2 separate regions of the Homo sapiens genome follow, and region 2 is linked to region 1. Evidence: fine-mapped expression QTL. A gene starts in region 1. The other region holds a variant in brackets. All regions are shown on one strand. Distances are from middle to middle.

What was found. PIP is the estimated chance that this variant, and not a neighbour inherited with it, causes the effect.
Region 2: its variant is the best candidate, but not a certain one, in a credible set for the expression of HIBADH in adrenal gland (GTEx, PIP 0.83).

Annotation. Positions count from the first base shown.
Region 1 is chr7:27,660,757-27,665,145 of GRCh38, forward strand. It overlaps HIBADH (3-hydroxyisobutyrate dehydrogenase), which reads right to left and starts at 2,127. Exons shown (of 8, transcript NM_152740.4): 1 at 1,942-2,127. The coding sequence starts at 2,032. The region is part of intron 2 of LOC105375211 (a long non-coding RNA gene); the gene reads left to right. RefSeq lists an enhancer at 1,864-2,681 and a silencer at 1,897-2,316.
Region 2 is chr7:27,501,302-27,505,690 of GRCh38, forward strand. No RefSeq gene overlaps it. Among named protein-coding and RNA genes, the nearest start is that of TSL, 110 kb to the right of the region's middle. The variant T/C (reference allele first, on the strand shown) is at 2,194.

The sequences.
Region 1 (4,389 bases):
TATATTCTGACAATTACCTTTGGGCCAAAGAACCCAAAGTACAAGACCATATGCCAAAGTAGTCTAATCAGCACTCTGAGGTAGGCCCTCCCAGTTTACAGAGGCACGTATTACAGTCTTAGGCCTCAGGCTCTTTCACCATGAATTGGTAAGAACTTTCATAACTCTAAAAGGTACATCAAGGGTTCATTAAAATACCATTAGAACACCTTGTAAAACCACTAAACAGCAAATATGTCTTCCTTGGCTAATGGGAACTGAAAGAATTGTGAATTCATGTGAAAACTGGTGCTACTGTGGAAAAGTGTCTATTCTTTTAGGGTTATCTCAAAAGTCGGAAGCATTTTTGTAGCTCAATATATGAAGCTCAAACAGTGGTTACATTCAAGTTTGGCATATTCTGAGTTTTTATCTTGTTACTGTGGTTCTGTATCAGACATCTGGTCTCTTGCATCTCACCGAGCCTCTGTTCTTCTCCAGCCAGAAAGGAAATTCAGAGGTTTCACTGAGGGGGAGAATGGGAAGCTGTTAAGAATTGTAAGAGAAAGTTCTTACAATTCCTGGCCAGCCACAGTGGTTCATGCCTATAATCCCAACGCTTTGGGAGGATCACTTGAGCGCAGGAGTTCAAGACCAGCCTGGGCAACATGGCGAAACTCCGTCCCTACTAAAAATACAAAAATTGGACGGGCGTGGTGGCACATGCCTGTAATCCCAGCTACTCGGGAGGCTGAGGTGGGAGGATCACCTGAGCCCAGGAGGTCGAGACTGCAGTGAGCAGTGTGACTGGGCCACTGCACTCCAGCCTGGGCGACAGAGACCCTGTCTCAAAAAAAAAAAAAAAAAAAAAAAAGGGCGGGGGGCCAAGGGGCTCAAATCCTAACCCACTATTTTTTTTTTAAGCAAAGATTAGAAAAAATTAATGCCAAGGTTTTTTTTGTTATTAATCCTCAGTATGATCTTGCTAAACGATGCATTGTTACAACTCTCAAACTTTCAGTTTGAGGAAGACAACGGCAGTGCCCCCACAAATCAACCAATTTTTCAATTAAAGAGGAGTCCTGGTGTGATAGAAAGTTAAGGAATTAGGAACAACTGATAACAACTTTCTAGGTCTTGCTGGGAATATCCTGATTCACTCATCCAAGGGGCCTCATGTCCCTCGTGCGGAGTATGAAAGACTGTATTAGATCTCCGTGGATCTTCATCCTGGCTCTAAAAACTGCCTCTTTGTAAGTTCATGGCTAGCTTCCACAATTTACCATGGTATGAGAGGAGGGAGGCAGGATTAATTCTGCCCACAATCTTGAGGACGCTGAACGTGTTTTGGTTCATAATTTGACAAAAATGACATTTTTTTAGGTTACAGTAGAGGGGGGAAGCCCGTCTTGCTGGTCAAGGGTGACTGAAACTTTGCTGAAAGACTTACTGCCTGGCTTGTACAGCCACCGCTTGTGTAATAAGGCCATCCCCTCGGACTCAGGTGGTTAAACATCAGGCCCTGCTGCCCAAGTGTGTCCCCAACCCAAGGTGCACCCTGGGGGCGCTGAAAGACCAGGGGTCGCTGGGGTGAGTGCGGGTTGCTCCTGGAGTTGGGCGCTCCAAACGTCCTCGGAGTCCTAACTCCAAAGCAGCATGCCGGGGTCCCAAATACTCTCTTCTCTTCAGCCCAAGCTCTTCCCCACCTCTTCCTAAATCCCGAAAAGGGCGCTGAACCCGTTCATCAGGAGCCCGGGAGAAAGGGAGGGAAGGCAGAGGGGGGTACTCGCGGAGTGAGTGGCGGCCGCAGAAAAGGACAGGCCTTTAGTACCAGCCAAAATATTGTTTTTTAAGCCCCAGCCCAACCGCAGGGCCTCCCGAGAAAAGACTTCTTCGGCCGTCTGGACAGAAGAAGCGAGCGGCCGAAAGAAGGACAAGGGGGAGGAGGCGTGAGGTCCTTACCCGCTGCAAAGCTGCCGGCTGCCGGCCGCAGCCGCCGGCTCCAGTACCGGAGACCGGAGGCAGCTCCGAGGAGCCGTAAGGAGGCTGCCATGCTGCGCCCGCCCCTCTCCCCGCGGTGACCTCCGCCGCCTCCCGGAGGGCCCACAGACTGCGAGCGTGTGCAGCGGGACTGGCTGGCTCGCCCACGGAGAAGGGCGCGCGCGCACGCGCTCTCACCGCTCGGGGGCGGGTGCCCACGCGCGAGGGAAGGAGCGCGGAGCCGAGAGGAGCGGCCTGACGCGGCAGGGCCTGTCAATCCCTTTACGGACAGGGAAGCAGACCAATCAGAATTCCCAGGTCCGCAGCTGTGCGAAGGACCAATAAGAGGCCTTTTTGAACAGTGACGCCAGGCGCCCTGGCGCTGCCCCCAAGCTCGTGCCTCATTTACAGCCTGCGGGCGGGAGTCTCCTTGTTTACCAAAGCAGAGGGCGTGTGGGAGGCGGGGGCCGTCGCTCGCTCCCGCCTCCTCGGAAACCTTGTCCCCACAACCGCTGCGTGTTAAAAAGGACAAAACTGACTCGCAGCTTGAAAAACACTCAGAAAGCTACCATGTGTGTAATAACTTTTAAATTCATTTGATTTTACTTAACACAACAGTTTCTCAATACTAAAAATAGTAGGAAAAGAAGTTGGTAACATTATCTTTGAAGGGAAGAGTTACTAGAAACTTGCACTTTCTATTTCAAGGCATATTTCTCTAATCTTTGAAAATTCTACACCCTAAATCCATTTTGTAAGCAAAACTAAATATAAAATCCAGAAAGTAGTAGTATATGTATGTGTATTAGAAAGACCTTTTTTTTTTTTGGAGACGGAGTCTCTCTGTCACCCAGGCTGGAGTGCAGTGGCGCGATCTCGGCTCACTGCAATCTCCGCCTCCCGGGTTCAAGTGATTCTCCTGCTTCAGCCTCCGGAGTAGGTGAGGTGGGACTATAGGCCTGCGTGCGCCACCACACCCGGCTAATTTTTTTGGCACTTTGAGTAGAGGCGGGGTGTCGCCATTTTGCCTAGGCTGGTCTCAAACTCCTGGCGTCAAGTGATCCGCCCGCCTCGGCCTCCCAAAGTGCTGGTTATTACAGGCGTGAGCCACTGCGCGGTGCAGAGAGACAGACATTTAGTCATTCTTCTGTCAATGCTTAGTGTACATATTTGAGTCTGTAAACCCCTTGGGGGTAATTGCAGGCCTTCTCATCTCCACTGACTCCACCAAAGGGTTGGAAGCCATGACCACACCAAAGCAAGACTATAGCCTTTGGAGAATGGCAATACAGCAGGAAAGAGAATGTGTATGGAGTAGCTAGGGAAATGCGAACCCCAATCTAAGTAGCACAATCAACAAAATTTGACTTTGACCTTTTTTTCAACTCAGTAACCCATGGAGTTGAAAGCAAAGGAATTGGATCATTTCCATCTGGGCTCTTTTCATGTTTCTGGGCATGCTGGCAACGTTTCCAAAAACTTAAAAACTTGTACAGAGTGCAAGGTCCCTATCTGTAACTGGGAGGAAGTTAATGCCCTTCTTTGACCATCACTCCACCCCAACCCTCTACCCAACACTAAATGAAAAGAAGGAAGGAAAGGGACGAAGGGAGGGAGGGAGAAAAAACTCATTTCAACAATTAGACCTTCTCCTAGATTTGGGTCCCCACCCCTACTAGGGGTAAATTAGTTTCTGGAGCATTTCCCACCTGTGCCTCTCTTCCTGGTTTCGTCAGGTTTTAGCTGGAATAGATCTCCTGCAGGCAACAAATGTGGGCCTACAGGTTTCTTTTTCTTTTTCTTCCTCCAGCACTACAGGTTTCTATAATTAACTCCTGAACTGCAATTGGTCTTTCAACTGTGTCTCCTCCAAGAAGCCCTGCATTGTCTTCTCCAACAATGTCTCCTCCAAGAAGCCCTACATTGATTCATAAACTAAGGAATTTTCATAGGTTTCCATGATTTTAAAGAAGCGTTATGAATTTTTAAGTAATTCTTACTGTTTGAAGGTGCTTGCAGATATTATTGTACTGGCAAATGCAGTTCCTGCCTATGGCTGGTTAGCTTTCTTCATTTGATTGCCCTCCTGATGCCCTTGTTTGAAAGGCACTGCAACTCCTCCCTGAGTCTTTGCCACGCATTTTTGTTTGTAATTGTTTCAATGCCTTATAGTGGCCCCTGACTTCCGCTTCCAGGAAGATGGAGTAGATAGGTTTCTCCCTATTCTTCTAAGTACAACTAAAAACTCAACATTATATATAAGATAAACATAGGGAGACTTTGAAAGGTGGAGAGAAGTCACACTGGCTAGGGTCCAGAGAGCAACACGGTGGGAAGTTCCTTGGGTTTTCATGTAGCCTTATATACCCCAAACTGGGTGCTGGAGAAGCCAAAACCAGAAACCCCAAAATGCCAGGAAGCATAGATAGA
Region 2 (4,389 bases), 160 kb before region 1:
ACTGTGTGTGGATTAGGCCAGAGGGGACAGAGTGGAGGCAGGGGAATGAGTCTCACTGGCCAGGAGGGAGAAACAAAGGAAAGGAGGGGCCTGACCAGCAGAAAGACATTGTGCAAACCGAATCACCTCTATTTATGACTGCAGTGAGCTCTCAGCAGTGCCTGTTGAACTAGGCTGCAGGGCTTCCATAATGTTATCTTGTTGTAGCATCAAAAGGCTTAGTTTTTTGTTTTTTTTTTTAAGTTTTTAAAATGGTTTAATTTCTTTGAATATCATCGGACTAGAGTTTGCCCAGGTGGCAGAATTTAGTTAGGGCCTTTAGCTGAAAATTGTTAGTGCAGTGAAGGTTTACCCTGAGTGGGCAAAATATTAAGGATCCCTTTCAAGTTTATTTTCAATTGATAAAATGCTTATTCTCCTAACCAATTCTTCTTTTTTTTTCTTTTTCAACTTTTATTTTAGAATCCAGGGGTACACGTGCAGGATTGTTACAGAGGCCTATTGCATGACTCTGAGGTTTGGGGTATGACTGAACCCATCCCCCTGGTAATGAGCACAATCCCTAATAGGTAGATTCTCAGCCCTTTTCCTTGTCCCTCTCTCCCGCCTCTAGCAGTCCCCAGTGTCTACTGTTCTCCTCCTTATGTCCATGAGTACCCATTGTTAAGCTCCCACTTATAAGAACATGCAATGTTTGGTTTTATTTCTGCATTAGTTCACTTAGGATAATGGCCTCCAGGTGCATCAATGTTGCTGCAAAGGGCATCATTTCATTCTTTTTTATGGCTGCATAGTATTCCATGGTTCATACCACGTTTTCTTTTTTTTTTTTTTTTTCATTAAAGTAGGCCTTTAATGGTGGAATTACAGTCATCTTAGTTGAAGAGATTTGTTTTTCTTTGTTTTTTTTAAGTTTTAGGGTACATGTGCACAATGTGCAGGTTAGTTACATATGTATACATGTGCCATGCTGATGCGCTGCACCCACTAACTCGTCATGTAGCATTAGGTATATCTCCCAATGCTATCCCTCCCCCCTCACCCCACCCCACAACAGTCCCCAGAGTGTGATGTTCCCCTTCCTGTGTCCATGTGTTCTCATTGTTCAATTCCCACCTATGAGTGAGAATATGCGGTGTTTGGTTTTTTGTTTTTGCGATAGTTTACTGAGAATGATGATTTCCAGTTTCATCCATGTCCCTACGAAGGACGTGAACTCATCATTTTTTATGGCTGCATAGTATTCCATGGTGTATCTGTGCCACATTTTCTCAATCCAGTCTATCATTGTTGGACATTTGGGTTGGTTCCAAGTCTTTGCTATTGTGAATAATGCCGCAATAAACATACATGTGCGTGTGTCTTTATAGCAGCATGATTTATAGTCCTTTGGGTATATACCCAGTAATGGGATGGGTGGGTCAAATGGTATTTCTAGTTCTAGATCCCTGAGGAATCGCCACACTGACTTCCACAATGGTTGAACTAGTTTACAGTCCCACCAACAGTGTAAAAGTGTTCCTACTTCTCCACATCCTCTCCAGCACCTGTTGTTTCCTGACTTTTGAACGATTGCCATTCTAACTGGTGTGAGATGGTATCTCATTGTGGTTTGATTTGCATTTCTCTGATGGCCAGTGATGGTGAGCATTTTTCCATGTGTTTTTTGGCTGCATAAATGTCTTCTTTTGAGAAGTGTCTGTTCATGTCCTCCCACTTTTTGATGGGGTTGTTTTTTTCTTGTAAATTTGTTTGAGTTCTTTGTAGATTCTGGATATTAGCCCTTTGTCAGATGAGTAGGTTGCGAAAATTTTCTCCCATTTTGTAGGTTGCCTGTTCACTCTGATGGTAGTTTCTTTTGCTGTGCAGAAGCTCTTTAATTAGATCCCATTTGTCAATTTTGGCTTTTGTTGCCATTGCTTTTGGTGTTTTAGACATGAAGTCCTTGCCCATGCCTATGTCCTGAATGGTAATGCCTAGGTTTTCTTCTAGGGTTTTTATGGTTTTAGGTCTAACGTTTAAGTCTTTAATCCATCTTGAATTGATTTTTGTATAAGGTGTAAGGAAGGGATCCAGTTTCAGCTTTCTACATATGGCTAGCCAGTTTTCCCAGCACCATTTATTAAATAGGGAATCCTTTCCCCATTTTTTGTTTTTGTCAGGTTTGTCAAAGATCAGATAGTTGTAGATATG[T/C]GGCGTTATTTCTGAGGGCTCTGTTCTGTTTCATTGGTCTATATCTCTGTTTTGGTACCAGTACCATGCTGTTTTGGTTACTGTAGCCTTGTAGTATAGTTTGAAGTCAGGTAGCATGATGCCTCCAGCTTTGTTCTTTTGGCTTAGGATTGACTTGGCAATGTGGGCTCTTTTTTGGTTCTATATGAACTTTAAAGTAGTTTTTTCCAATTCTGTGAAGAAAGGCATTGGTAGCTTGATGGGGATGGCATTGAATCTGTAAATTACCTTGGGCAGTATGGCCATTTTCACGATATTGATTCTTCCTACCCATGAGCATGGAATGTTCTTCCATTTGTTTGTATCCTCTTATTTCGTTGACCAGTGGTTTGTAGTTCTCCTTGAAGAGGTCCTTCACATCCCTTGTAATTTGGATTCCTAGGTATTTTATTCTCTTTGAAGCAATTGTGAATGGGAGTTCACTCATGATTTGGCTCTCTGTTTGTCTGTTGTTGGTGTATAAGAATGCTTGTGATTTTTGTACATTGATTTTGTATCCTGAGACTTTGCTGAAGTTGCTTATCAGCTTAAGGAGATTTTGGGCTGAGACAATGGGGTTTTCTAGATATACAATCATGTCGTCTACAAACAAGGACAATTTGACTTCCTCTTTTCCTAATTGAATACCCTTTATTTCCTTCTCCTGCCTAATTGCCCTGGCCAGAACTTCCAACACTATATTGAATAGGAGTGGTGAGAGAGGGCATCCCTGTCTTGTGCCAGTTTTCAAAGGGAATGCTTCCAGTTTTTGCCCATGCAGTATGATATTGGCTGTGGGTTTGTCATAGATAGCTCTTATTATTTTGAGATACGTCCCATCAATACCTAATTTATTGAGAGTTTTTAGCATGAGGGTTGTTGAATTTTGTCAAAGGCCCTTTCTGCATCTATTGAGATAATCGTGTGGTTTTTGTCTTTGGTTCTGTTTATATGCTGGATAACATTTATTGATTTGCATATATTGAACCAGCCTTGCATCCCAGGGATGAAACCCACTTGATCATGGTGGATAAGCTTTTTGATGTGCTGCTGGATTCGGTTTGCTAGTATTTTATTGAGGATTTTTGCATCAATGTTCATAAAGGATATTGGTCTAAAATTCTCTTTTTTGGTTGTGTCTCTGCCCAGCTTTGGTATCAGGATGATGCTGGCCTCATAAAATGAGTTAGGGAGGATTCTCTCTTTTTCTATTGATTGGAATAGTTTCAGAAGGAATGGTACCAGTTCCTCCTTGTACCTCTGGTAGAATTCGGCTGTGAATCCATCTGGTCCTGGACTCTTTTTGGTTGGTAAGCTATTGATTATTGCCACAATTTCAGCTCCTGTTATTGGTCTATTCAGGGATTCAACTTCTTCCTGGTTTAGTCTTGGGAGAGTGTATGTGTCAAGGAATTTATCCATTTCTTCTAGATTTTCTAGTTTATTTGCGTAGAGGTGTTTGTAGTATTCTCTGATGGTAGTTTGTATTTCTGTGGGATTGGTGGTGATATCCCCTTTATCATTTTTTATTGTGTCTATTTGATTTTTATCTCTTTTTTTCTTTATTAGTCTTGCTAGCGGTCTATCAATTTTGTTGATCCTCTCAAAAAACCAGCTCCTGGATTCATTAATTTTTTGAAGGGTTTTTTGTGTCTCTATTTCATTCAGTTCTGCTCTGATTTTAATTATTTCTTGCCTTCTGCTAGCTTTTGAATGTGTTTGCTCTTGCTTTTCTAGTTCTTTTAATTGTGATGTTAGGGTGTCAATTTTGGATCTTTCCTGCTTTCTCTTGTGGGCATTTAGTGCTATAAATTTCCCTCTACACACTGCTTTGAATGTGTCCCAGAGATTCTGGTATGTTGTGTCTTTGTTCTCGTTGGTTTCAAAGAACATCTTTATTTCTGCCTTCATTTTGTTATGTATCCAGTAGTCATTCAGGAGCAGGTTGTTCAGTTTCCATGTAGTTGAGCGGTTTTGAGTGAGATTCTTAATCCTGAGTTCTAGTTTGATTGCACTGTGGTCTGAGAGGTAGTTTGTTATAATCTCTGTTCTTTTACATTTGCTGAGGAGAGCTTTACTTCCAAGTATGTGGTCAATTTTGGAATAGGTGTGGTGTGGTGCTGAAAAAAATGTATATTCTGTTGATTTGGGGTGGAGAGTTCTGTAGCTGTCTATTAG